Linked DNA regions of Homo sapiens. The protein of the gene in region 4 interacts with the protein of the main gene of each other region in a pairwise test. Each region holds a gene or a part of one and is shown on either strand. Other genes may lie near its edges. The genes, in order: RHEX, GNB4, PLIN3 and SH3GLB1.

The links.
Region 1: the proteins of SH3GLB1 (region 4) and RHEX interact in binary tests that used the Homo sapiens proteins (3 or more experiments, as listed by UniProt).
Region 2: the proteins of SH3GLB1 (region 4) and GNB4 interact in binary tests that used the Homo sapiens proteins (3 or more experiments, as listed by UniProt).
Region 3: the proteins of SH3GLB1 (region 4) and PLIN3 interact in binary tests that used the Homo sapiens proteins (3 or more experiments, as listed by UniProt).

Annotation. Positions count from the first base shown.
Region 1 is NC_000001.11:206,048,760-206,056,175, reverse strand, and holds the start of RHEX (regulator of hemoglobinization and erythroid cell expansion protein), read right to left. Parts: upstream 3,004-7,416; 5' UTR 2,911-3,003; intron 2,734-2,910; exon of another isoform or gene 1-2,733. UniProt on the Homo sapiens protein: Acts as a signaling transduction factor of the EPO-EPOR signaling pathway promoting erythroid cell differentiation.
Region 2 is NC_000003.12:179,448,447-179,456,113, forward strand, and holds the start of GNB4 (guanine nucleotide-binding protein subunit beta-4), read right to left. Parts: upstream 3,025-7,667; 5' UTR 2,900-3,024; intron 2,769-2,899; exon of another isoform or gene 2,531-2,768; intron 1-2,530. UniProt on the Homo sapiens protein: Guanine nucleotide-binding proteins (G proteins) are involved as a modulator or transducer in various transmembrane signaling systems.
Region 3 is NC_000019.10:4,857,645-4,864,668, forward strand, and holds part of PLIN3 (perilipin-3), read right to left. Parts: intron 3,768-7,024; 5' UTR 3,751-3,767; coding exon 3,685-3,750; intron 2,381-3,684; coding exon 2,182-2,380; intron 2,029-2,181; coding exon 1,946-2,028; intron 1-1,945. UniProt on the Homo sapiens protein: Structural component of lipid droplets, which is required for the formation and maintenance of lipid storage droplets. Required for the transport of mannose 6-phosphate receptors (MPR) from endosomes to the trans-Golgi network.
Region 4 is NC_000001.11:86,707,556-86,714,579, reverse strand, and holds part of SH3GLB1 (endophilin-B1), read right to left. Parts: intron 1-7,024. UniProt on the Homo sapiens protein: May be required for normal outer mitochondrial membrane dynamics. Required for coatomer-mediated retrograde transport in certain cells. May recruit other proteins to membranes with high curvature. May promote membrane fusion.

The DNA.
Region 1 (7,416 bases), about 120 Mb from region 4:
AGTCCAATACCTCTACACAGTTATGTTTAACTGGGCTCTCTGACACCGGGAGGAAGGTGGCGGGGTTTAGGTGTTGCAAACTTCAATGGTTATGCGGGGATGTTCACAGAGCAAGCTTTGGTATCTAGCTAGTCTAGCATTCATTAGCTAATGGTGTCCTTTGGTATTTATTAAAATCACCACAGCATAGGGGGACTTTATGTTTAGGTTTTGTCTAAGAGTTAGCTTATCTGCTTCTTGTGCTAACAGGGCTATTGCTACCAGGGACTTTGGACATGGGGGCCAGCGTTTGGAAACCTCATCTAGTTGTTTTGAGAGATAGGCCACTGGCCTTGGCCAGGGCCCTACAGTCTGGGTTAAAACTCCAACTGCCACTTTTTCTCTTTCTGACACATAGAGTGTAAAAGGTTTTGTCAGGTCAGGTAGCCCCAGGGCTGGGGCCGACATGGGTTTTTTCTTTTTTTCAACTCATGAAAAGCTCATTGCTGTTGGGTGTAATAGATGCAGTTTATCTAATCTACATTTTTATTGACTGTCATCTACCAAAATATTGACTTAAATCCTGTAGCTATTTGATTTCGGACTTTAAATTGATCTGGTGTTCCTTGCGGGGCTTCGATTGCATCTAAATAGATGTGAGAGTTGAAAGACCCATAAGGGGCTTCTCTCGCTTTACGATGTCTTATTATTTTTTTTTTCCTTCCTCTGGTTGATGAAATGCCAGGGTGAAAGGGATAGCCAAATAGGCTAAAGCACAAGTGCCACTCTAGTTATTCGGCAGAGTGCCCAATAAAGGTCCACGACAATACCATCACACATCCGCTCGGGGATGAACAAGGGCTGACTGACTGATAAGCTCTTGAAAATTCTTAAGCTCACTGCATCCCTTCAGGTCTCCAAGGAATGCTAAGTCTCCTCCCTGCCATGAGAGACATGAAGTGAACTTAGTGTTGGGAGACGGAAGCTGGACGGCCCTCAGGGGCTGACCCGCAGGGACTTTGGGATATAGCAGAGAGAGCTTGGCATGACTTATTACTCCAAGCTGTAGAAACCTGGAAAATAGCTACCCTGCAGCCCATGCCTGGTCAACTGGAGGACCACCTTAGTGGAAGGGGGACAATCAGGGCCTCTGGCCTGCCATGTGCACAAGCATAACAATTGCATTTGTTTAAAGTGCAGATGGAATATTTGATCCATTTCAGCCAGGCACTTGCATCTTGGCGTGCTGTCTTAATTGCCAAAGTTTGTTTTAAGTCTTTAACTTTTATGATCCTCTAGTAAAATGAATGTTTCCTTTAGCACCAATTTTTATTAGTTTTTAGACCAAAGAAAGCTAAACACCATTTTATATTTAATAATGTTTCTTGTATGATTTTTATACCAGATAAGCTAAATTTTACCTTTATATTAGTGTGTTATTAATTTTAAACTGAATTTTAATAAAACCTTGTAGACATATTTATCCAATTTTTCATGTTTGACCATAAGGTAAGATTTTATAGACTCTTTTTAACCTTTTATAATTTTTGTTAAAGAGCAGGTTGATGCTTTAAGAAAAACCTGTGGCATTTTTTACTTTAATGTCCAGTTCACAGAAAAACTGGATGATACCTTTTTAACTTTAGCTAATATGTTTACACACAGAATTTTCTTTATAATTAACGTTTTAAAACTTGCTTAAACTTTTAAAACAATAATTGTTTTTAACCTTTTAATGTAGGTAAAAATCCACATTCTTATGCCCCTTTATAATCTTTTTACCAAAGGTATGTTTTACTTTTCTTATACACCTTGCACATAAACTGTTTTTTTAATAGTACTCAGGAGGCCTTATTACTTTTAAATTATACAACATTTTTTGCATAAATTTTTTTATAACATTTTTTCTTTCACGACTTTTGCCGACAATTCTTCAATGTGTCTCAACTTTCTGACTTATTACAAACATTTTTTTTCTTTAAACACCAGTTAGTTTATTTCAGGACAAGAATTTACCATATAACACTCTTTTTACATAAATTCTGTCTCCCCCCACTTTTTTTTTTTTTTGAAGATAACCATTCCTTTTTTTTTTTTTTAAAGCAAACTTTCTTTATGCCTTTGGACTAGACTGTCTAAGGCCACAAGATTAGAAGTTACCATAATACATGTTACACTGTTAACTTTAAGCAAACTTCACTTTTGTTGAAAACCTTGTAAGTTTGGGATTTCAATTATCCTTTGCTATTAAGACCTTGTTTAGTCTAAATTAACTTAGAATTGGTATAGATGGCCTTTTTTTCTCTCTACTGGTCTTTCCTTGCCTCTGCCAGCCGCTTATGCTGCTGTTCTCTTAACTACGTTGGCGGGGCAAGGGGGTATAAAAGCAGCTGTAACTTTCTATGTATGGAAACTGGTCTGGGTGCCTTGGCTTACGGGTTACCTTGTGTCATACCTTTGAAACAAGGGACCTGTCCAGGCTTCCTTCTGATGGCCAACCCACCTCTAATGCTGGCCAGTCTATTTCACACAAAGTTCTAAGTTTTCCTGGTGTCACAGTAACACTGTAATCTCCCTTAAATTCTTTCTTGAATTTTTTTTTAACATAGTTCCTAGTGGGGTGGGCTTATTTGTACCTGACCCATGCTTCTTCGAGACAAAACACCACACCCACACCACACACATGCCACAAACAAAAAAACAGGTAAAAAGGGCATACACACTCTTGCAGTTTACACCAAACCAAAATCAAAACCAAAATCAGAGTATCCAGAAATCCAAGCCAGGTCAAAACCAAAACCAAAACCAAAGTATCACACAATCTAAGTCAAGTCAAAACCAGAACAGAAGTGCCAATGCAGGCATGTCGTGGGTGATCAGGCCACACTTCCACCTAGATGGAGTGGGGCAAGTTCCAAAGACTAGTCTTACCAAGTTTCAGATGTCCGGACTCCAAGTGCCAGTTCCTTCCCGGTGTTCAGCCACTGTGTTAATCCTCCACAGGGAACTGCTACACGCTGCTCTGGTGAGGCATTCCACCGGGGCAATTTCCTACCCGGGAGTGCTCTTTGGATCGCGTCACTCGGGCTGGCCGGAGTCCGCCTCAGGGATGCTCCACAGGGGAGGCCTAAGCCGCCTAAGGGGCTGCCTCGGCTGTCCATCAGTTACCTCGTTTCCTGGTCAGGGAACCAAGAAATGTAGCAGGACGAGCCGCAGACAAAACCCCTCAGACACCAAATTGTAGAAGGAAGGGCTTTATTCAGCTGGGAGCATCAGCAGGCTACTGCCTTAAAATCCGAGCTCCCCGAATGCACAATTTCCGTCCCTTTTAAGGGCTCACAATACTAAAGATTTCACATGAAAGGGTCATGATTGATTTGAGCAAGCAGGCGGTATGTGACAGGGGCTGCATGCACCGGTGGTCAGAGAGAAACAGAACAGGGCAGGGAGTTTCACAATGTTCTTCTATACAATGTCTGGAATCTATGAATAACATCAGTTTCTAAGTTATGAGTTGATTTTTAACTACTGGGTTTAGGCCAGGCAGGCCCAGGCCTGGTTTCGGGCCTGGCGCCGGACTGCCTGTCTTTGGTTTTACTTCCTTGTTGTTTTTCCTTAAAACAGGTACTGAGTATAAAACAATATAAAACAATATGAGAGGGTCTCTCTCTTCCCTCACAGTGACCTGGGTCTCAGACACTTCCTAACTGTGATCTTAGGACAAACACTTAGCTTTTCTGAGCCTCATCTGTGAAACAGACAGAATATGAATGCCTACCTCATGGAGTTGTTTAAGAACTCAGTGATCAGACTATTATTCAACAGTAATAACGAGCCAGGCCCAGTGGCTCACGCCTATAATCTCAGCACTTTGGGAAGTCAAGGCAGGAGGACCGCCTGAGCTCAAGAGTTTGAGACCAGCCTGGGCAATATAGCTAGACCTTGTCTCTACTTTAAAAAAAAAAAATCCGAAAATTAGCTGGGTGTGCTACTGCATGCCTGTAGTCCCAGCTCCTTGAGAGGCTGAGATAGGAGAATCACTTAAGCTAGGGAAGTCGAGGCTGCAGTGAGCCATGATCACACCATTGTACTCTAGCCTGGGTGACAGAGCAAGACCCTGTCACAAAAACAAACAAAGAAACAGAAGACAGGAATAACCACCATTTGTATTGTTCTAGTTTTCAGTTGGTCTTACCTGAGCAGAGTAATTGGGTGAGATTGTTCATGGAGGCATTGCTGGCTCTCTAGTCCTGGAACCTACAGTTGGTCCAATTCATTATGCCAAAGGGTCCGTCTAGGAGGTTCTTGTTCCAAGTATTGAGATTCCCGAGAGAAGTAGGTCCCCTTAGATAGAAGCAGAGTTTCTCAGAGGTATTTAGCAGCAGCTGGTGGACACAGGACTCAGGGAGCTGGCCCCCCTCTTCCCTTCCATGTCTTTCATTCCTGCATGGGAACCTGTCAGATGGGGAGATTGTTAAAATCTCACCACTGGAGGGGAGGGCCTCAAAGGCCATGGAGACAGCACCTCTCTCTTAGTGAAGGCATCTTCAGATAGAATTCAGCACAAATTCAAAGGTGGCTCCCCAGACCCTATCTGTCACATCGCCCTCTCATCTATTAGTATCTGAAGTCACCTTGATCATTTATTTGTTTACTTGATTATTGTCAGCCTCTCATCACATGAATGTGAGCTTCATAAGAACAGAGACCTTATCTGTTTTGGCCAACATTTCACCCCCAGTGTCTAGAAAGTGCCTCATGCAATGAATAGGTCCAATACATATTTCTTCAATAAATGAATGAATGAATGAATGCCAAAGACTCCTTCATAAAAGCCAGGGTCAACTGACCTCTGCCAGAATTTTGGAGAGCCTACACCACAGACTTTTGAACCTCTTAGCTGATGACAAATCTTTAGCCTTCGAAGCGGAAATTGATTTGAAAGAGCCCAAAGTACTCCGGTAAAGTAGGTGATGTTGAACTGGGTAATGTCAATTTCAGAAAAAGAGGACACGTGCCTGTGAAACACCAAGAGCAGTGTCCTGGGGTTGGGGAGGACACCTGCCTGGGTGTGGGTGGCCAAGGGGAAGAAGGAAGAGAAAGAGCAGGGGAAGATGCTGTCCCACAGCCACCACCACAGGTGTTCACCGGCCTCAGGCGCCAGCCCTGCTCAGGGTGAGAGGCGAAGAGGGAGGTGTGCTTAAGGCCAAATGAAAGAGGATCTGCCACCCTCTCCTCCCCCAACTCTTACCACATTCTAGCAAAGAGAGCTGCAGGAGCAGTCAGGAAATCCCCTAACAAGGCAAGCATTGGAACCAAGAGCCCAGGTGGCACGGATGAGTCACTTCACTTACTTGGACTCAGTTCCCCTATTTGTGAAATGAAGCAAGGATGAGAAGAGGAACAAGACGTGATCAAGAAAAAGGCAAATGTTTTCACAAGTGCCTGTCATTGCCCCCTTCTGTTGTCCCCTTCCACATGTCACCTGGTACATTGTACATTTCTTCTAACAATTGTGTTATTGGCCAGGAAATACAGAGAATTCTTTTAGAGAATAGGTTTTCTAAGTGTTAAAATTGTTTTTATTTTTAATTTTGTAAGGGGAGGACATCATCACCTTTTCAGTTTGGGACTTTTGAAGTGTTTGTTTCATTAGGTCACATTCAGATGGTTTTAGAATTCAAAAGGTACAAAAGGATAGTCCTGGAAAAGCTGCTCATCTGCTCTTGACCCCAGCCATCTAGTTCTCCTCCCTGGAGGAAACCAGCATGCCCAGTTTATTGTGTACGTTATGTGTACATGAGCAAACACACAGACACACAGAAACACACTCACCATACAGGCGTCTTCCTTACACATGACAGTGTACTACATACTTTGTTTTGCCTTTTGCTTTTTCACTTAATATATCTAGGAGTTAATTTATTATTAATACATACAGAACTTTCTCATTCCTTTCTTCCTCTTCAGAGTGTTCCGTTCTATGGTTGCTCACAGTTTATTTAACTGGTCATCTAGTAGTAAATTTAGATTGTTTCCACTTTTTACACTTGAAATGATGATGTAATTATTAAACTGCAACAAACATCATTTGCACAGGTGTAAATATGTGTGTAAAATTAGAGAAATGGCCATTAAAGTAGATCTGCCATCCCAGTTTTAGGAAGTCAGTATTCCTTTTTACAAATCCAAAATACAGTGTTACCCAATTTGACTACTCATATTATAATCCAGATTTCACTCTGGCTGTTTCCAAAAATCAAAGCACTCCTCAGAGAACAAAGATATGACATCACTGAGGATATTCAACAGAACTACCAATTTCTCTAAAGGCCGACCTCCAAGGAGAATCCAAACGCCTTCAGCAATAACAGCATCACTAGAGTGAGTATAGCATGTCCCTGGATGCTGATGATGGAGCGATAAACCCTCATGACACAGACATTTCCAAACAATTCAGGCAAAGTTTACTGAGTGCCAACTACATAGTCTGTTTAAAGCCCAGTCTGTCCTATTACACTGGTCTTTCAGTTTAAATAAATAAATAAATAAATATAAATAAATAAATAACCCAGTCTGTAAGGATGAATAGAAAAAGGCCTTGTCATCAAGAAACCAATGATCTAGGGAGCAGTTCTCAAAGTGTAGTCCAGGGACCCCCTGGGGGTTCCAGAGATCTTTTCAGAGGGTTCATGAGGTCAAAACCACTCTCTTAATAATACTAAGATACTAGTTGCCTTTTTCACTCTCAGTTTCTCTCAAGCATACAGTGGAGTTTCCCAAAGTCTATGTGACATGTGGTATGGCATGAGACTGAGTGCAAAGGCAGACCTGAGAACTCAGCTGTCTTTTATTGAGCTAGGTATGAATAATGAGATTTGCACATGCATAAAACAGTGCTTCTCTTTTCATTAAATTCTTCATGCTTTGGGAAATAGTTATATTTCATAAAAAGTGTTATGTTTAAGATGTAATGGCTTTGGTACTATTTTCTAAGGGGATTAGATAAATATTTTTAAATTTTCTTAGTTTTAATTTCTGATATGGTCAATATGAATAGATATAAACTACATAAACAATAGCGTTTTGGGTTCCTTAGTACTTTTTGAGAGTGTACAGGGGTCTGGAGGCCAAAGAGTTTGAGAATTGCTGATCTAAGGACCCATGGCATTTCTTCACCATAGGGCAAGAGAGGAGCATTTTGCCTTATCTGCCAAGAGTGTGCTATGCTACATCCAGGGGTGCAAGCCAAAAGATTCAGGAGGAACAGATTGGGTGTTCTCAAATAGCGATGTGTCAAGAGGACAGCAATTGCTTGGACACAAGAATTCCCCCCGGAGCCTGCTGGCTGGCAGTGCAGCGGCTGTGTAGAAAGGCTCTACCAGAGGGGCAAAGTCCAGGCATGAGGCAACAAGGAGGCTCTGAGGTTGGGGGAGC
Region 2 (7,667 bases), on a different chromosome or scaffold from region 4:
TTTAATCCTGTGCTCAAAACTTACTTGGTTTTTTTTTTTTTCTTCTGGGAGTTTATATTATTCACATAAATACACGGTTTGTTGTTGCTGTTTGTATTGTTTTGGAGTCCCACTCTCCACATCTTGTTAATTTTATTTTTGAACATAAAAAAGACTAACAGTTTCCAAAACTCAAAACTATGCAAAAAAGTACATTCAGAACAAGGCCATTCCTTCTGTTGTTCCCATTTACTCAGTTCCTACCCGGTGCCTGTAGGTAACTAATTAGTTTCTGGTTCTCACTCCTGTATTTATTTTTTGTTCTGTCAAAAAACTACGCTTCCTCAAGGTGAGGTAGAGAAATGAGGCAGGGCCAGACGCCGTGGCTCACGCCTGTAATCCTAACACTTTGGGAGGCTGAGGTGGGTGGACTGCTTGAGCCCAAGAGTTCAAGACCAGCCTGGGCAACACAGCGAGATCCCGCTTCTATTTATAAAAATAAATAAATAAAAAGAAATGAGGCAGTCACTGAAGCAGAACACTGGATCAAGAAACCATTTTATTTTAAAATGGCAGACTGTACAATAATGTAAATGATTCTGTAGTAACTGACAAATTGAAGGTGCAGGAGAGAGTATGATAAATTGCAGAGGGAAATATCCATCAAAATATCCTCTAGTTTAATTTGAGGGATATCAAAGGGTTCTCATATCCCAAAATTGACCGCAATCCTGTTTGTAACCTTCCAAATTAGTTATAACTCTATCTCTAGAGAACCCACATTAAAATGGAGTTACTGTTTTATCAAGATAATTAAGCCATCACTACCTATTAATATCAATAGGATACACTGTGCCCTGGCAAAAGGGAGGTTTTGAACTTGGAACAAGACATTTAACTAGGAGTAGAGTGGTGAGAAGAGAATGGCTGATGTGAGAAGCTGTATAAAAACATGGGACAGACAATAATGATCATGCTGGAAAAACAAACATGCTTCTGGCATGTCTTGGATATTTTACACACATGCTAATGAGTAATTGAGGGTCACTCCTCATGCCCTCGAACTAAGTTAATATGGCTCAGGGGAAAGAACATGGACTTTGGAAACAGAGGGGTCTTGCTTCGAATCCCAGTTGAGTTACCTAACACCTACATGACCACTGCCAAGTTACTTAAAACCTCACAGACAATTTCCTTACCTGTGGAAGTAGATAATGGTGTTACTGTGAGATATAAGTAGAATAACTTACAGCACTGCCCCAGCCCAGAAGAGATATTTTAATAAATAAGTCCATAACAGACGCAGATTAAAATAGTCAGCAAGGTAAAGAAACTGATGATACAGCCAGCTGACTTCAATAACATGCCTAAGAGAAATCACACCATCTCAGGCAGTATTTGGTAAGGCCAGAAGAATGTCCAACACTTAGTTCCAATTCTTAATTTTCAAATTGCCCCAGAGTCTATTTTTAAAGTGTAAAAGTATGTGCTGACATACTTACATGCCAATTGTTTAAAAGAAACAATTCTACAGGTTAACAAAGGCCAAAGACTCGGAATAACTTCCTAAATAATGTTTATGGGCCCACAAAGAGTTGAACCAACCTAAAATATCACAAGCTGTATCAATCAGTTTTATAAATGTATATACAGAGGGTTGACAACGTTCAATAAGATGATATTTTAAAAGTTTCTATTTCAGTTTCAAATTCATCTACAAACCAAAATGCAACATGGAAAATCTTAAAATGTCTTTAAGCCACATACTGAAATATACAGTAAATTTTCAGAGCCTAGGATCAGTAGTAAACCAAAAGCCCCAAACTGAAGAGTATTAAAATGAACAATGGCAGAGACTCGAAGCACACAATTTTGAATGCACCTAATCAGCCGTCCTCCTCTCCGACTAGAAATAACTTCCCTCCCATCTTAAATTAAGTAGCGTGTGTTCTGTCTCTGTCCTAGAAGATGTACTTAATGGTCATAAACTCTGTTTGCAACACTGAGACGGACTCATAATAAAAGTTCTAATCAACAATTAAATTTTGAACGTTTTAAGAAAACTTCCCGCTAAGCCACACGCCAAGCTACTTTGTCGGTGGCTGAGAGGGAGAAAGATGCATCCTTATCCTTTATGGAAAGAGAAAGGGAAGGAGTGGGAGAAAAGGGAACACAAGGAGACGAAAAATAACAAAGTATTGCTTGTATAAACAAATGAAAGCCTGGTTTCAAACTTTTGAAAATTCAACGTTCCCTTAGCGAATAGCAATACATATCAAAGTATATGGCAATCATCTGTGTTCTGAAGCAGAAAAAGGTGGAGAGAAAAGCAAAACACTTTTTATTGTACTGAACTCACAAGTATTCAAAATTCATCAATCCCCTCCCATCCCCAAACTCTGGACATTATATCATTTCCAAAATAAATCTGAAACAAAACCATTGGACTAATTTTGGACTCAGCGTAGAACTTTTATGAGTCTTCCAAGCACTCTCCACCCAACAGCCCTGCTGGGCAGTCCCGAATACCCGTTATTTTGGGGGCACGCACGGGCTCGTGCTCTGAGTTCCTGGAAGGAGGCCTCGGGGAGTGACGAGAAACCAGGGGGGTCTGCAGGACTTGGACCGCCGACCGTTCCTCGCTCCCCGGGGCGAGCGGTCTGGACCGCCCGGGAAGTGCCTGCGCCGGCGGTCGTGGGGCCAGTTCCCGCGTGGCAGCTGGGCGCGACACAGGCGCGCCCTCCTCGTCCCTCCCGGGCAGCGTCGGCCGCCCGAGCCCGGGGAGACCCGCCCCGCCCCGCGCCGTCACCCGGGCCCCGTTCCGCAGGGGTGGCTCGCGGCGCCCCACGTCCCTGCGAGAAGCCCGGGATCGCTTCGCGGGGCGCACCGACGAGCCGCCGCTCGCGAGCTCGCCGCCTACCTGGAGGGAGCTCAGGCCCGCGTCGACCGCGCGCTGCCGGTGTCCGCTGGGCGCTCAGCAGCCCCTGGAGCGCGGAGCCGGCGTGGAGAGCGCAGCTCACAGCCGAGACCAGAGCCGCCGGCCACACCCAGTCCCGCACCTCCCAGCAGCCAACTCCGCGGCGCGCCGGAGCCGGGGCGGGGACGTGGCTGGAGGCGCGAGGCGCGAGGCACGAGGCGCGCGGGCCCGGCGGGGACGTGCCGGGGACGCGCAGACCCTCGGAGCGCGCGCAGCCCGGGCGGGGGGCGAAGGGAGCGGGCGCCGCGCGCAGCTTCTGCTTCCTATTTTCTCTCTCGTTTCCTGCCAGAAGGAGAAGAAAAACATTCATTCCCGGGCAGTTTCGTTTTCTTGTTGGTGTGGCGCCGGGGCACGCTGCTAAGTAGCGCCCGTCTAAGTGGCGTGGCCAGTTTCCTTTCCGGCGCTGACAGGCGCCAGTTTGCTTGTTAGCAGGATCGAAGGGCAGAGCTAGAAGACCCCAAAGGCCCCATTTAGGTTTCCCATTCTGGAATTCTAAATGTCAGAAAGTAAACTGAAGCCCAGAGTTGCACAACCTTGCGTTGCAGTCCCCGCTCTTCCATCACTAGTTGTAGGACCGTGTACCGTCTCGGGCCTAAGTTTCGTCATCGCCAAAATAAAGATACTGATACCTGCCTCATAAAGGTGCTAAGCATATTAAATGAAGTGATGTTTGCACGAAGCCTGCCTCCAAATAAATGGCCAATACTTGGAAGTTATTGTTCCTATTGTCATTGATAAAACTGGAAGGCCTTCCAGATATCCCTGCCAAGTCGCTCTTCTCTGCATGAGTTAAACACCACATGCATCTCAATCGAGTTTTTTTTTTTTTCACATTTATCTGGGTGTTTTATGTTTAAAATGTCATAAAATAAATGCATCTATCCAATTTGCTTCCTCTGAAGTCAGTACCGCCTGGGAGCATTTTTCCTCTCCCCACCCCCATTTTTCTTCTGAGTTAATTCCAGTTTGACAGACTGTTGCTATAGCATTCCTTCTCTGACGTCAAACAATTTAAAGAAACAGCCCTGGGTAGCGAAAACTGCAGAGGAGTTCTTTGTGGAGTTTCTGTGCCGGAGAAATGTTCGAACAATATCATCAGATAACTTTAACAACCCCTCAGCCTTCCAATCCTCCTTCTGTAGCTGCTTCCCACTATCACCTGGAATAAATCTATTAGTCCCTTGAAAGAGGTGATGCCATGATAAACACACCCTGTTTGTGACTGTGGGGAAAATGTGACCGTTTTGTATAAAAGCCAGGCCGTGACAAAAATAGAAGCAGCTGTTTCTATTTTCTTTATCCACAGATAAAGAAACTGTGGATAATTTTTCCCCCAAAATTTTCATTTTTACTAATATTAGGAGCATTTTTCCATTAAGAAGAAAGAAATGCCAAATATTCTGCATATCAAAGTGTCAGAAGAGCTCGTTGGGACATGAGTGTTTTGCATCTGTAACTATTTATGTTTTAATGATTAAATCCTGAGTTTTATGATTGTCGTTTTTCGGAGGAAGCAAAGGGAAATTGTTAAAGAGTGCCTATTACGGACCATGCTCTCTGCTTTCTTATACTGTACTTAATCCTCATAATTACCTTGAAGTGTGAATTTTATCCCCATTTTACAGATAAGCAAACTGATGCCCTGGTAAGATTAATTTATCGGAGTCACGAAGGTATTGGTAGAGCCCTGCATGACATCAGATTGGATCAACTCCAAAGCCCACATTCTTTCTTTTTTTTGTTTGTTTTTTTGTTTTGAGACGGAGTCACTGTGCAGTGATGTGATGTCAGCTCACTGCAACCTCCACCTCCAGGATTCAAGCGATTCTCGTGTCTCAGCCTCCCAAGTCTGGGATTACAGGCACAAGCCACCACGCCCGGCTGATTTTTTGTATTTTTAGTAGACACGGGGTTTCACCGTGTTGACCAGGCTGGTCTCAATCTGCTGACCTCAGGTGATCCGCCCACCTCGGCCTCCCAAAGTGCTGGAATTACAGGCGTGAGCCACCGATCCCGGCCCCATATTCTTTCTTTAGATTCTTTTCTGCCTTGTTCCTGTGCACTAGCATTTACCAGATGTTATAAAGCTTTGAGAGCTGGTTGTTGGGTTAAGATTATTTGTTGAAAAACAAGTTGCTGGTATTTAGGAAAACACAGTGGGAAGCAATGAGATAGTCTATTCCAGAAAAGATGAGGGGAAATATAAATGAACAGCTCCTAAACATAAAATACAAAACCTGAAAAGATGTAACAAGAATTTGACTGTCTTTTAAAGAGTTTAAAAGAATGATATCGTCAATCTTCCTGAAAATTTAATGTAGACAAAGAAATTACTAGAAGAATAAAGTCCAAGTACAGAAAAAGGAAAGTTTAATTATTATCCAAACGAATCTACTTCCAAGAATATTGTATTTCTGTTTTGCCATACCTGCTCCATATTGTTCTGGAAAAAAAAAAAAAAACTTACTTGTTAAAGGACAAGCCTATACTGAAAATCTGAAAGTGGAGCTGATTAAAAGAATTTTGTCATCAGGAATGATTTCATAAGAGCACACTAATGCATCTAAGTGATCCAGCAATTCATGATTTTTCCAATGATAATGAAATCCACGAAGAACAAAAGAGAGAGACTGGGAAGGGAGGCAGAGAGAAAGGTGAAGGGGTATGCTATTAACATTTCTGATGCCTGCTGGTTTGTGTAGACAATTGTAGAGATGTATCCTACTTCTGAGGATTAAGCCCCATGATCTTTTGTTTGGGTGCCACTGGCTGATAATTAGATTTCTAACTCATTAGGCCCATGTTCTCAAATCCTACTCTATTAAGAGAGCATAGTGGGGTCCCTACTAGAGAACCTTTGAAGACAAAATCCTTGTCCGTTTCATCTTTGTGTCTGCCATAGTGTTTAACAGAGCACCTTGCATTTGCTAGGTACTCCACGAACAAATAAATGAGTGAATGCACTTGGCTGCTTGTTTTATGCAAATAACCTGCATACCTCACCCCATCCCACACGCTAGTCAGAATCATAGGAGAGGAGAAAGTGGTCATTGCTTTTCTAGGAGTTTAGTTACAGTTTCTTTTGCAGGGTGTTTTGCTTCACTATGATCAAGTTCAGAGAAGCTCTGCTCTTGGTCCTACATTGGATGAATCTGAATGCTGTACTCAGTGAGCTACCCTGTAATCCATAGTGCCATAGGTTTGTATATCCTGCTTTTAAGTTTTACCCTAGAAATGGTCTATATTTTTTTCTGAGCCTACCTTGCTCTCAGACGATGCCAAGCACACCGTGAAGAACACAGCTATTAAAGTGTACAATATTTCAGTACCGCCCTGTATGTGTTGTATGCATTCCAATTCTATTGTGTTTGAAATGAGGCCAAATTATATACATACAACATCACAACTACCGTAACAGATTTTATTTCACCCACAACAAAATAAGTTATAAAATATTAAATGGAAATTATCTAACAGGATCTACAGCACAGTTTCCCAAGGACATGAGAAGCAATTCCCTAGTAGATTCTGTAAGAAGTCAGTCTATGTGTGGTTTCAGACAGACATCCTTGATACAGAGTAGTCATGCCTAAAGCCTTCCCTCTTGCTCACACACAATGCATTTTCCATATCAAAGTACAGTTTGTACTTTGAGTCACCTTTGCTGTACTCCTCTGACACTGGTGGTACAAATCAGTTATAGCTTTTGTTTATTTCCACTCAGGTTCTCGTTAACCATGGGAATTTGGAATCTGTCATCCAAGTGCATCCCAGTGACCTTAAGAGAGGGTCAATGATATCTGTCACAGGCATGGGAGAGGGAACTAGAAGCATGCAGGCATATATCTGCTGCTCTATGTCCTGTCATTCAGGTCCCTGGAATCAGGGAATTCAGGGAAATCAGGGAATTCAGGTCCCCGGAAAGGGACATGTCAAAGTGAAAAAACACTAAACTGCACATCAGAAGACTTGATTTAGAGCTTTGGCTCTGGTATTAAATGTCTGTGTGATCTTAAGCAGATCTTACCCTGCCAGCATTCTGTCTTAATTATATAAAATGAAGGTGCTGAATTCTAATACGATTGACAAATAGACAACACTGGTGCCATCTCTCAGACTATGTCCGGGGATGACTTCACTAATCAATCGTGGACTCTTGCCCTGTAAGCTTCATTTCATCCCAAGAACTCTTCTGAACACCACATTTTCAAAAGGAACTCTGATCTGTTTCTGTTAAGTGAGTAAAAACATGAGTTTAAAAATGAGATGACATATTAGTTATCTATTGCTCTATTCAAGTCACCAAACTTAGTGGATTAGGACAACAACAATTATTTAATTTGTTCATGAATTTCCAACATGGGCAGGGCTTGGCAGACGTGTTCTCTGTTCCATGCTGGCTCAGATAGTTTGACTCTTATTAAGATGGCACTCTCACATGGCTGGCAAGTTGGTGCTGGCTGCTAGCTGGAAGATCAGCCAGGTGTGTGGGCAGAAACTTCAGTTCCTTTTCACGTAGGGCTTTCCACGGGCTACTTGGAATTCCTTGCATTAGAGTGGCTGGGTTCTAAGAGCAAGTGTTCCAAGAGAACAAGGAGGAAATGCATAGCATTTTTATGACTTAGCCTCAGCAATCACATAGTGTTGCTTCCACTATCCTCACTTGGTCTAGGCAGTCACAAATTCATGTAATAGGGACATAGACTTTTTT
Region 3 (7,024 bases), on a different chromosome or scaffold from region 4:
TTAACCCCAGGTCAGCATTGCCATTCTGTAGAAAAGAAAGTGGGACCCAGGCTGGGCCTGGTGGCTCATGTCTGTAATCCCAACACTTTGGGAGGCCAAGGCAGGTGGATCACCTGAGGTCGGGAGCTCGAGACCAGCCTGACCAACATGGTAAAACCCCATCTCTACTAAAAATACAAAAATTGGCCAGGTGTGGTGGCACATGTCTGTAATCCCAGCCACTCGGGAGGCTGAGGCGGGAGAATCGCTTGAACCTGGGAGGTGGAGGTTGCAGTGAGCTGAAACTGCACCAGTGCACTCCAGCCTGGGCAACAAGAGCGAAACTCCATCTTAAAAAAAAAAAGAGGGGGCCGGGCACAGTGGCTCATGCCTGTAATCCCAGCACTTTGGGAGGCCGAGGCGGGAGGATCACGAGGTCAAGAGATTGAGACCATCCTGGCCAACTTGGTGAAACCCCGTCTCTACTAAAAATACAAAAATTAGCTAGGCGTGGTGGCAGACGTCTGCAACCCCAGCTACTCAGCAGCCTGAGGCAGGAGAATCGCTGGAACCCGGAGGTGGAGGTTGCAGTGAGCCGAGATTGCACCACTGCACACCAGCCTGGCAACAGAGCAAGACCCCGTCTCAAAAAAAAAAAAAAAAAAAAAAAAGTGAGGCCCACAGAGGCAAAGTAACTTGTGTGAGGGCCACCCAGCTGCTGAGGGGCAGGACACAGTTTGGAACATGGTGTTTTTTTTGTTTTGTTGTTTTTGAGACAGAGTCTCGCTCTGTCGCCCAGGCTGGAGTGTAGTGGCGCGATCTCAGCTCACTGCAACCTCCGTCTCCTGGGTTCAAGTGATTCTCTTGCCTCAGCCTCCCGAGTAACTAGGACTACAGGCACACGCCACCACGCCAAGCTAATTTTTTTTTTTGTAGTTTTAGTAGAGATGGGGTTTCACTGTGTTTGCCAGGATGGTCTCGATCTCCTGACCTTGTGATCCGCCCACCTCAGCCTCCCAAAGTACTGGGATTACAGGCATGAGCCACCGCGCCTGGCCAGAATATGGTGTTTTTTTGGTTTTTTTTTTTTTTTTTGAGATGGAGTTTCACTCTTGCTGCCCAGGCTAGAGTGCAATGGCATGATCTCGGATCACTGCAACCTCCGCCTCCAGGGTTCAAGAAATTCTCCTGCCTCAGCCTCCCGAGTAGCTGGGATTACAGGCACCCGCTACCACACCCAGATAAATTTTGTATTTTTAGTAGAGACGGGGTTTCTCCATGTTGGTCAGGCTGGTCTCAAACTCCCAACCTCAGGTGATCCTCCCGCCTTGGCCTCCCAAAGTGCTGGGATTACAGGCATGAGCCACCGCGCCCGGCCAGGAACATGGTGTTTTGATGTTTTGACTTTCCTGCCGCCAACCTTTTCTGACTAATAAGTTATGGAGGTGGCAACATTCTGTGTAAAGGGCCACGTAACTAAGATTTTCAGTACTGTGGGTCACAGTCTCTGTCACAACTACTCAACCTTGCCATTGTAGGGTGAAAGCAGTCATAGACAATATGTAAATAAATGGGCATGGCTGTGTGCCAATAAAACTTTATTATAAAAACAAGTGGGCTGGGCACCGTGGCTCATTCCTATAATCCCAGCACTTTGAGAGGCTGAGGCAGCTGGATCACCTGAGGTCAGGAGTTCGAGACCAGCCCGGCCAACATGGTGAAACCCCATCTCTACTAAAAATACAAAAACTAGATGGGCATGGTTGCAGGCGCCTGTAATCTGGCTGGCTTTGCAATTATTCCTCCAGCTACCCTGTGGGGAGTGGATTCGGGGTGGGGATGGGAACCGACAGGAGAGGCAGCAGGGAGGATGCCATCAAGCTTGTCTAGTTAAGCTGGGACCAGCGCACTCCACACCCAGGTAGGTCCCTGTCTCGACAGAGCCCCTGAGGACGGACATCGTTACCTTCTCCGTGGGCTGCTGCAGGATGGGGAGGTTCTCCTCCAACTTGTCCAGCCCCCTGTGGGCGTATTCGCTGGCTGATGCAACTGCCAACAACAATTAAGACGCAAATGTGACTGCTGGAAGGTCACCTAGTAATGGTTCAGGGGGACAGGACCAAGAGCTGGGTAGACCCCCCTACTCCCCACCCAGGGAAATGACCAGGAGGGGAATTCAGTGCCCCCTGGGACTTCACCCACTCTGGGGCTCCAGCTTGGAGAGGATCGGCTGAGCCCCGCTGACAGCAGCCGCCGTGAGGGTCCTCACTCCCTTCTCTGCTGCGTCGCAGACAGTCTTGATGTGCGGGTAGCTCTCCTTGGTGGAGGCATAGGCTGCGGACACCATGTCGCAGGTGGAGCTGATCAGAGGCATGCTGGCCACACGGTCCACCACACTGGGCTACAGGAGAGAAGTGGCTCAGGCAAACTGGGTGGGGGAAGATGGGGAGCTCAGCCGGAAACTCAGGGTGCCCTGCAGTTTTGCTCTTACTCCTGGCCAGTGAAACGGCTCAGTTTACCCACACTTTGCATCCAGGCAGTTGCACAAGCCAGGAACCTTGGGGTTTCGCCACGTGCTTCCTTTATTTTTATTTTATTTTTGAAACGGAGTCTTGCACTGTTGCCCGGGCTGGAGTGCACTGATGCGATCTCAGCTCACTGCAACCTCCACCTCCCAGGTTCAAACGATTCTCCTGCCTCATCCTCCTGAGTAGCTGGGATTACGGGTGCCACCACGCCCAGCTAATTTTTTTGTATTTTTAGTAGAGATGGGGTTTCACCATGTTGGCCAGGCTGGTCTTGAACTCCTGACCTCGTGATTCGCCCACCTCAGCCTCCCAAAGTGCTGGGATTACAGGCGTGAGCCACCGCACTCAGCCCACGTGCTTCCTTGAACACAGGCTATTTACATGAGCCTGCACTTTATCCCAGCGATGTGCCAGGTGGTGATAAGGGACAACAGTTCCATTCTCATGGCAGTTAGGGTCTAAACCGGGGGCTGTAGACCACAGCCCATGGGTCACAGCCAGCGCACCACTTGATTTTTAAATTTTAATTATTTTTGGGGCCAGGAGCAGTGGCTCACGCCTGTAATCCGAGCACTTTGGGAGACCGAGGCGGGTGGGTCACTTTGGGTCAGGAGTTTGAGACTAGCCTGGCCAACATGGTGAAACTCCGTCTCTACTAAAAATACAAAAATTAGCCGGGCGTGGTGGCACATGCCTGTTACCCCAGCTACTTGGGAGGCTGAGGCAGGAGAATTGCTTGAACCCAGGAGGCAGAGGTTGCAGTGAGCCAAGATGTCACCACTGCACTCCAGGCTGGGCGACACAGCAAGGTTCCATCTCAAAAATATATACATAAAATAAAATCACCTGAGGATGAGAGATCTGGAATAGAAACTGGCCTCCTAGGACGTCCCTGAGAGAGCCTTCAGAGGTGAGGATGATTTGGCTCAGGGGTTGGGGAGGGCAGGTAGTTTCAGACAGAACCCTGCTCCCTCAGGCCCTCCAAGGGCCTTTGAGATTCCCCCCTCCCAACTGGGGACACCAGTGAGTGGTCCATACCCCACTGAGGAATAAATCCCTCTGGCTCCGTGAGCTGCCGGCAGATCCCTGGCTCCCTGCCAGGGCACCCTGGGGTGGGAAGCCTCCTTGCACGGGAATCACAGGGTCGGGGCAGTCCCTGGTCCCGGCCCTTCCTCACCTGCTGTACCGGTTCTTCCACTGTCACCTGGGTGCTGCCATCAGCCTCTGCCCCGTCGGCAGACATGGTCTCTGCAGCAGACGCTGAGGAGAGAGGAACAGTCAGGTACAGCCTGCCTGGCCCCACCTTCCAGGAGAAAGTCCAGGCCCACGCTGCAGCTGGAAGACAGGGTTCACACCTGCCCATGACTTACAGCTGTGTCTTTCAGTCCTTAGCAGGCACAAGAGTGACCTCTGGACTTTGTTCAATAGCAAGTGCTGATTCTAAAGCTTCGGGATGGGGCTCACCTGGCCCCCTATTTCTTTTTTTTTTTCTTTATTTTCTTTGGAGACAGTCTCACTCTGTCGCCCAGGATGGAGTGCAGTGGGGCAACCTGGGCTCACTGCAACCTCCGCCTCCTGGTTTCAAGCAATTCTCCTGCCTTAGCCTCCCGAGTAGCTGGATTACAGGCACCCACCACCACGCCCAGCTAATTTTTGTATTTTTAGTAGAGACGGGGTTTCACCATATTGGCCTGGCTAGTCTTGAACTCCTGACCTTGTGTTCCACCCACCTTGGCCTCCCAAAGTGCTGGGATTACAGGTGTGAGCCACCACACCTGATCCTTTCTTTTTTTTTTTTCTCATTAAAGACAGGGTCTTGCTCTGTCACCCAGGCTGGAGTACAGTGGTACAATCACAGCTCACTGCAGCCTCTAACTCCTGGGCTTAAGGGATCCTCCTGCCTCAGCTTCCCAAGTAACTAGGACTATAGGCACACACCACCACGCCTACTTAATTTTTTCTTTTTGGGTAGAGATGTTATCTTTTTTTTTTTTTTTTGAGACAGAGTCTTGCTCTGTCGCCAGGCTGGAGTGCAGTGGCACGATCTCGGCTCACTGTAACCTCCACCTCCCACGTTCAAGCAATTCCCCTGCCTCAGCCTTCCCAGTAGCTGGGACTACAGGCGTGTGCCACTACACCTGGCCAATTTTTTGTATTTTTTTAGTAGAAACGGGTTTTCACCATGTTGGCCAGGATGGTCTTGATCTCCTGACCTCGTGATCCGCCCGCCTCGGCCTCCCAAAGTGCTGGGATTATAGGTGTGAGCCATTGTGCCTGGCCAATGGTATCTTGCTATGTTGCCCAGGCTGGTCTCGAATTCCTGGTCTCAAACAATCCTCTTGCCTTGGACTCCCAAAGTTCTGGGATTACAGGAGTGAGCCACCATGCCCGGCCCTGACCCTGCATTTCTAAAAGGCTCCCAGGCAGTGTTGATGCAGCTGGTCCCTGGGACACACGTCAGGAAGCAAGGCTTGGGAACAGTCCCTTCAGGGCTCACCTGTACTCCAGCAAGCCAGGTATGACCTAAAACCTCTGTAGAGGACAATTTGCCAATAGCTGTCAAGTTCCAAGAGCCATCTTCCCCTTGACCCAGAAACCTCACTTCGGGGAAGAACCCACACCTGTGTTTCCACATGAGCAGAGCTGTGTGGACTTACTGGCCACAACATGACACTGGAAACAACCTGGATGCCCAGCAAAAGGGGAATAAGAAAACAACAAGTGTGGCCAGACACAGTGGCTCACGCCTGTAATCCCAGCACTTTGGGAGGCCGAGGTGGGTGGAACACGAGGTCAGGAGTTCGAGTCCAGCCTGGCCAACATAGTGAAACCCCGTCTCTACTAAAAATACAAACATTAGCCAGGCATGATGGTGGGCGCCTGTAATCCCAGCTACTCAGGAGGCTGAGGCAGGAGAATCGCTTGAACCCAGGAGGCGGAGGTTGCAGTGAGGTGAGATCGCGCCACTGCACTCCAGCCTGGGCAACAGAGTGAGACTCCGTCTCAAAACACAAAAACAAAAATAAGTGTATCCCAATGCAGTGGCTAAAGAATGAGATTTAAAGGCCGGGTGCGGTGGCTCACGCCTGTAATCCCAGCACTTTGGGAGGCCAAGGCGGGTGGATCACCTGAGGTCAGGAGTTCGAGACCAGCCTGACCAACATGGAGAAACCCCATCTCTACTAAAAATATAAAATTAGCCAGGCATGGTGGCGAATGCCTGTAATCCCAGCTATTCAGGAGGCTGAGGCAGGAGAGTTACTTGAACCCGGGAAGCGGAAGTTGCAGTGAGCCGAGATCGCGCCGCTGCACTCCAGCCTGGGCAACAGGAGCGAAACTCTGTCTCAAAAAAAAAAAAAAAAGAGATTTAAATGTAACTCACATGGGCCAGATGTGGTGGGTCACACCTCTAATCCCAGCACTTTGGGAGGCCGAGGCAGGAGGATCACCTGAGGTCAGGAGGTGGAGACCAGCCTGGCCAACATGGCAAAACCCCGTCTCTACTAAAAATACAAAAATTAGCCAGGCGTGGTGGTGCACGCCTCCATGTTTAGTTATCCCAGCTACTCAGGAGGCTGAGGCAGGAGAATCGCTTGAACCCAGGAGGTGGAGGTTGCAGTGACCTGGTATTGCACCACTGCACTCCAGCCTGGGTGACAGAGCGAGACTCCATCTCAAAAAAAAAAAAAAGAAAACAAAACAAAACAAACAAAAGACTAAATGTAACTGACATGACATGAACAAAGATCTAGTCAAGGGATAAAATGTGTTAAATAGGGCAAACTTTCTTCTCTTTCTTGAGACGGATTTCCGCTCTGTCGCCCAGGCTGCAGTGTAGTGGTGCGATCTTGGCTCACTGCAACCTCTGTCTCCTACGCTCAAGCAATTCTCCCACCTTGACCCTGCAAGTAGCTGGGACTACAGGCACGCACCACCACACCTGGCTAGTGTGTGTGTGTGTGTGTGTGTGTGTGTGTGTGTGTGTGTGTGTGTGTGTGTGGTTTTGTTTTTTTTTTTTGGACAGGGAGTCTTGCTCTGTCATCCAGGCTGGGGTGCAGTGGCGTGATTTCGGCTCACTGTAACCTCCGCCTTCTGGGTTCAAGCGATTCTCCTGCCTCAGCCTCCTGAGTAGCTGGGATTACAGGTGTGCACCACGTCTGGCTAATTTTTTGTATTTTTAGTAGAGATGGGGTTTCACTATGTTGGTCAGGCTGGTCTTGAACACCTGACCTCGTGATCCACCCGCCTCAGCCTCCCAAAGTGCTGGGATTACAGGATGAGTCACTGCACTCAGCCGTGGTTTGTTTTTTTTTTTGTTGTTGTTGTTGTTTTGTTTGTTTGTTTTTTAGTAGATGGGGTTTTGCCATGTTGCCCAGGTTGGTCTTGAACTCCTGAGCTCAAGGGATCTGCCCACCTTGGCCTCCCAAACTGCTAGGATTACAGCTGTGAGCCACCGCACCCAGCCAAAATTTAGGCTTTTTTTAAAAAGTGAGATAACATGCCTGCCTGCACCGCAG
Region 4 (7,024 bases):
CTTAAGCTGAAGGATCCTCTAGAATTCTATTCTTAGACTTCTGGTTACAATCTCCACTGAGGCTCCTGTTTAGGGGCTAGAAATAACAGCTTAAATAGCTTTTGTAAAGCCTTGGGTCTTTTTGAGAATGGTCTATAGCCAGCCCCTGACCTAGTGGGTAGAACCAAAAATAGCAGTTACAAAGCTATTGCCTAAGCCCATAAACTTGCAGTGTAGCTGGAGGACTGGGCACTGAGCAAAAGCAAACCCTGATCCCAAGGCCAGCTGGATAAACTATGCAACCTCATTCTTAACAGAGAACCCCGTAGTCTTTACAGATCCCTGAAGATTCTAAGCAACAGACCTCCTACTAGACTTTTACATGTTCAAAGTCTACCACCAATGGCTAGATAAAATAACTCCCAGATAAAGTGACCAATAGGAAGGGAAGAAAGGGAATACCTTTCACTCAGGTGAACATCACCTATAAAGAGTGATCTAAAAAAAATTCACTTAGCCCCTTAAAAATTGAAACTGCATGCATAAATTTCCCTTTAATAAGCAAGTTTATCCATTTGTTTGTTCATTTTGTTTATTCCTTCAACAAATACTTATTAAGCACCTACATATGTGCTAGGCACTCTTCTAAACACATGGGTTTCAGCAGCCAACAAAACATATAAGGTTTCTGTTCTTAGGAAGCTTACATTTTAATGGCAAAGACAGACAATAGATAAATAAATAATCTGATAATAAGGATATAAAGATATGAAGATGGTAAAGCGGACCAACATGGTTGGTTTGTTTCTGAGTGACATACAAATCCAAGTACAGAGAAAGAATTCATTCTTCAGGGAGAGGAAGAGGGAGAGCAGGAGAATCAGGGAAGGCTTCAGTGGGGGAGGGATGGGCAACTTGGGCCTAGAAAGGGGAGCAGGAGTTTGAGGAGTGTGAGATGCGGGTAGTTAGAGAAACAGCATCTCTGAGTAGGTAACAAACGACCTGTGACTGAATGATATGAACTATGTTAAGATCTAAGGAAAGAGTGTATAGTCCTGATGATTTATCTTCCAGTTGCACAATTTCTTTAAGCTCATTAGCATCACCCTCACACATATTAAATATTAATTTCTCTGTGGAAATCCTTAACTTATAGTTAATAACCAAGAATAGATTAATAGAAAAATCAACAGATCAATAATTCAAAATCAGTACTTATGGCCAGGAGCAGGGGCCCCCGCCTGTAATGTCAGCACTTTGGGAGGCTGAGGCAGGCAGATCACTTGAGCTCAGGAGTTCTAGACCAGCCTAGGCAACATGGCGAAACCACGTCTCTACAAAAAAATCCAAAAAATTAGCCAGGTATGGTGGTGCACACCTGTAGTCCCAGCTGCACTCCACTGCACTCCATTCTGGGTGACACAGCAAGACCCTATCTCTAATTAATAAGTTAATAATAAAATAAATAAATATAAAATAAAATAGTCACTGAATTTATCTGATACAAACTGGGGTTCAGGGCAAGTTTTCTCCCGACAGTATTTCAGGAAAATCAGCAATTAGAAAGTTAATTATTTGGAAAATAAAACACTTCAATCTTCAGGTAAAAAGGCCTGTTTGCTTAATTATTTAACATTTTCTTTGTGACTCTCATGATACTACCTCCCAGGTATCTCAATAAATATATATTCTTTTTGAAAAGAGTATGAAAGTATAACAGAGCAAAGATGGGTATTTGCACCAAGTGATTTATTTGTATGAGTCTGAGGAAGAAAGAAAATATGTTAACTGATAAAGATTCTACAAACACACACAATTAGTAGGTTTTTTTTTTTTAACTATTTTAGTTCAGAAGATACATGGAACCCTTACACATGAGTGAGACAGTCTAATTACAGAAAACCTGTTTAGAAAATAGCAGTACTGTAGGGTCACATGACAATGTTTCTATGTTTCACATTTCAGCACATCCATTTACATCTTTCTCATACTTCTGTGTCAAGGCTTAGTGTATGTTCAAAAATTCCATTAACTAAGCTGTGCATTCTACAACAAATACTCGAAAGAATCTTAAAATAAAGTAAGAATAATTGTAGAGATTAATAAATTGAGACTCAGGGTGATTAAACACTTTGTCCAAGGTGTCATTGTTGGGATTCAATCTCACATCTGTTTGAGTCATAGTCTTATCATGCTATACTACCCTTCCAGTAAATACTTGCTGATTTCCAAAATTAGTATTTTCTATTTCTATTACTATTATCCAATCATATTCTGTGCTTCCTTTCTCCTATGTCTGTTCGCAGCACTCTGGACAGCTTTCTCCCCCAGATCACTTCTGCTTTCTACAAGATATTCAATAATTATTCACCAAAATTAGTAAACTAAATCCTATCATGAATGAATAAAAGGGAGGAAGACACACAATAAGGACATTGCTAATGCTATCATATTTTAAAATTGAAATTATAAATTTAAATCTTATTACTTAAATATATAATTGTAAAAGACATAATATTTCCCAAATTTTATCATTGGTGGAAGCAAAAGGATTTTTCCATAATTAATCAGAAGTACACTTTATTAAGATAACAAATACAATATTTAATACATTTTCTCTAAAGCACTGTAAATAATGCGTCTACTACAGACACTAGGAGTCATCTCAACTAAATTAATATTTAAATTACTAATCAAAAATATTTATGGCTTCTACAGCAAGATGATCAGCATCTGATGTACTTCTTGCCCTCAAGGATTTTATGATCTACTAGGAGAATACTGCCTTGACTCAAACAAAATTATAATAATGGCACCTTTTCAGAAGGGCAAAAGACCTATTAATTCTTTCTTTTAAAAAAAGATCCCTTTCCTAGTTACCAAAAAATTTTAAATTAACCCATAAAAATTTTAGTTTTCAACATCTTCAAGTCAAAAATCATTACTGATTTTGTAATCTCTTGATAATAGGTATTAATGAGAAACTAGTTGATTTTAAGCATATCTTTTAATGAATAGATGGCAGTATAGTTTAATAATTAAGAACTTTTGTGTAAACAACCTAAAATAAAAGGCAAACTGTAAATAAGCATCTTCTTAGTAAGTCATTAAACTCAATGTTTTCTAAAATATAATTTGATACCTAATTTTTTCATATTTCATTTGTAATATGGCAAAGTGGCATAAGAATAAAAGTTTAATCCCCTTTTATATATTTTCTCTAAATATTGCTTTGCGGAAAGAATTGTCTTTGAGTCGGCTACATTATACCAGGCACTGTAATCCTTCTTTTACTACAGGATAGGCATATAACCCACATTATTAAATAAGGAGCCTGGATTCCAAACTCTACTTTTAGAAAAAAAAAAGACTACAAATAAAATGGGTGTGTGATCAAAGACATCTATTTAATGCAAACTCTAATCACCAGTATTACTAAAGGGTAATACTCTAAAAGTAATTTAAATTTCTTGGAAAATATGTAACACAGATTCTGAATAATGTATTAGTAAACTGTAAGGTGCATCTTTCTCCATTGGTTCCCAATTTTGGCTGTTCTTTAGAATTACTTGAGGGAGCTTTAGAAAACACTGATGTCTGGTCTGATCCAACCCCTAAGATTCTAATTTAATTGGACTGGGGTGTAGCTCATATATTGGCATTTATAAAGATTCCCCAAGCATTTTAAGTGCAGCCAAGACTGAGAACCACTGTTCTAAACTCATTCATAACTATTTAAATATGTATCGCTTGGTTTAGTGCATGCTGCATTACTTTACTTTCCTCTTTGGCCCATTTAGGAATTTCAGCTGTTATTACTGTTACTTCACTGTGCTGGAGTTTTGCTTCAAATATATTAACTGTGTTGAGGTTCTTTCAGTAAGCTGGTCTCCAAAGAATATTAAAGTAATTGACTTAGGTGTTTGATCATTTTAAATATAGTAGCAAAGCAACTAGGAGTACATCAGTTGGGTGTGGTTAAGAGTTTAGGATTAATTTGTAGCTCTGTCATTACCTTAAAAATACTTTCAAGAAAGGCCAGGCACGGTGGCTCATGCCTGTAATCCCAGCACTTTGGGAGGCTGAGGCGGGTGGATCACCTGAGATCAGGAGTTCGAGACTAGCCTGGCCAACATGGTGAAACCCCGTCTCTACTAAAAATACAAAATTTAGCCGGGCACGGTGGCGCGTGTCTGTAATCCCAGCTACTAGAGGGGCTGAGGAAGGAGGATAGCTTGAACCTGGGAAACGGAGATTGCGGTGAGCCAAGATCGTGCCACTGCACTCCAGCCTGGGCAACAGGGCGAGACTCCGTCTCAAAAAAAAAAAAAAAATTCTTTCAAGAAATATGATGAATTTAAAAGAGTTTTATAGATTTTCTAATTACCTTACTCATGTAGTACATAAGTGTAAATTTTAACATCAGGTTAACAAACTATCTTCTATCTATTTTACTAAAGTAATGCAAATAGCACCAAAGGATGTGAAAACAGTTTTAAGTAACACTAAACATGTAGAGTTTTTATATAACAAGAAAATGTATGGATTTCGAATGTGACATATTTTATTTATTAGAATTTAAGAAACATGGTGAAGTTGTCACGGTGTGAATTCTGTAAAAGAAATAGGATTTCAGAAGTGCTTGAGAGAGTTGTTTGGCCAAACTGAAACTCCAGGGAGGGTCTGACAGGAGCTATTGAACGGCAACATCATATTCATCTTTACATCCTTAGACACACCATGACACTTGCTGAAATAAATGGGAGATCAAGGCCAAGCTCAAAACTATATTTTAAGAACTATATTCCTTAGAAAATAGCTGGTGTTCACGAATTTCATAGTATGACTTTAATAATCAGTTTAGAGGAAATGTTAGAAAATTAAAATGAACTCCCTCCCTAAGTAATTTGATTTGAAAAATTCTTTTTAGAAAGTCTTTGCTCTTATTTTAATGATGGTGAGCAAGGTTTTGCTTCAATAAGAATTCTGAGTTAAAAACACATCTCTTGTTCCTTTATCCACTTGAAAGATTTATCAAATAAAGTTATTCACAAAATGGCTATTTAGTACAAATAAGATTTATGACAAGTTTGAGACTATTATTATGAAGTCTCTGAGGGCAGGAACAGGGTCTCATTCAGCTTTGTATCTTTCAACGCCAAGCACCTAGGAGGTACTCAATTTATACTGGTATTAGTTAACTTCAAGGTCCGCAAACAATGTTAGAAAATACTAATAAAGATACTGTTATTTAACATGCTTATTGTTGCCCTTCAAAGATTAAACTTCACATATGGATGGTAATTTGCCTGGCTAAAATGATATAAAAGATGAACCATGTTAGATGTTGTAAGAGGGGAATAAGAAACAGAGTTGATGCCTTAGCACATACAAACTTATTAAAGAAAGTCAGAGTAACAGAACTTTAGAGTTCCAAGAGATCTAACATAACAGTTCATTAGAAGAAAAGTGCCACCTCATCATTTGGAATTGAAAATGATTCACGATTTCACAGCAAGCTCTTGTGGTCTAAGAAGCCTTATCAGCTGAGATGGATTTGAAGCTATATCTTTAAAAAAAGTTTATTTTACTTTTATTTTAAAATTTTTTTTACTCTCTCCATTTTGGAGATGAATAAAGTTGTATCTTAAGGAAAGGAAAGAATAGGCAGACAGGACACTTAAGAGGAGTCTAACCATATGAACAAAAGCCTAAAATAAGTAGAAGATATTTTGGAAATTAAAAAATAATTTGGAATACAGTGTTTATATAAGTGAGAGAAAGGACCAGATTGTAAGGGAGTATTTAATGCTCAACTAAGAAGTTTGGACTAAAAAGATGGATTCTAAGAATAAATGGCATTTAAAACTCTAGTAAAATAACAATTAAGCAAGGGTGAATTACCTGATACTTTTGTATTTTACCATCTTGAGGTACTTAAAAACAAGCACCCAAATGGGCTAGTTAAGAATAAACATTCCTACTCATTTATACATTCTAGTCTAACATTCTTTTTAAAGTACCAAGGCTTATAAACAAATTTTAAAAGGAGGGAAGTGGAGTGGTGATGGGACGCATCTATGTGCTTTACTAGTTTGAGCTGACCTTTTTTTAAAACAAGAAACATGTTTAATTTTTAACTTAGAAATTTTTAAGTAAAATGGAAAACAATGTATGGCGTTGGCCAACCAAAGAATGGCATATTCCTTACGGTACAATTTGATTTGAATGAAAATTATTATTTATAAACGTGAATGTTTCTCTCTCTACTGTTCTTACTGCTTATAAAGAGATATTGGCATAGCTCTTAAGCTATTCTTAGCATGAAACTTGGTACTTTGGCATTATACTGATGTCAATGCAATTTAATGTAGGAACTCAGTGATGAAATAAATACTGAGATGAGAAAGCAGTGTTTTGTTGAAAACTACCACACAGCATTCCAAATTTCACATGTTCTATTTTAGAAGCATCCTTTTTTTCTTACAAATTTTATCTTTAAAAAAGTATTATGGAAAATGTCAAACATACAAAAGTATAACAGTATAATGAAACCTCATGAACCCATAACCAACCTTCCACAACTATCAACATTCCGTTGCTGTTGTTTCAGCGACTTCTGTTTTTTTCTTTTGAAATATTCAAACGCTAATCTCAACTGGTGTGGTGGCTCACACCTGTAATCCCAGCACTTTGGGAGGCCGAAGCAGGTGGATCCTGAGGTCAGGAGTTCAAGACCAGCCTGACCAACATGGTGAAACCCCATCTCTACTAAAAATGCAAAATTAGCTGGGCGTGGTGGAGCCTGCCTGTAATTCCAGTTACTTGAAAGACGGAGGCAGGAGATTGGCTTGAATCGGGGAGGCGAAGGTTGCAATGAGCTGAGATCGCGCCATTGCACTCCAGCCTGGGCAACAAGAGCCAAACTCCATCTCAAAAAAAAAAAAAAAAAAAAATACCCTGTAAAAACCAAATCTCAGATATGATATAAGTTTATCCATAAACATTTCAGTATGTATCTCTAACAATTACAGACACATTAAAG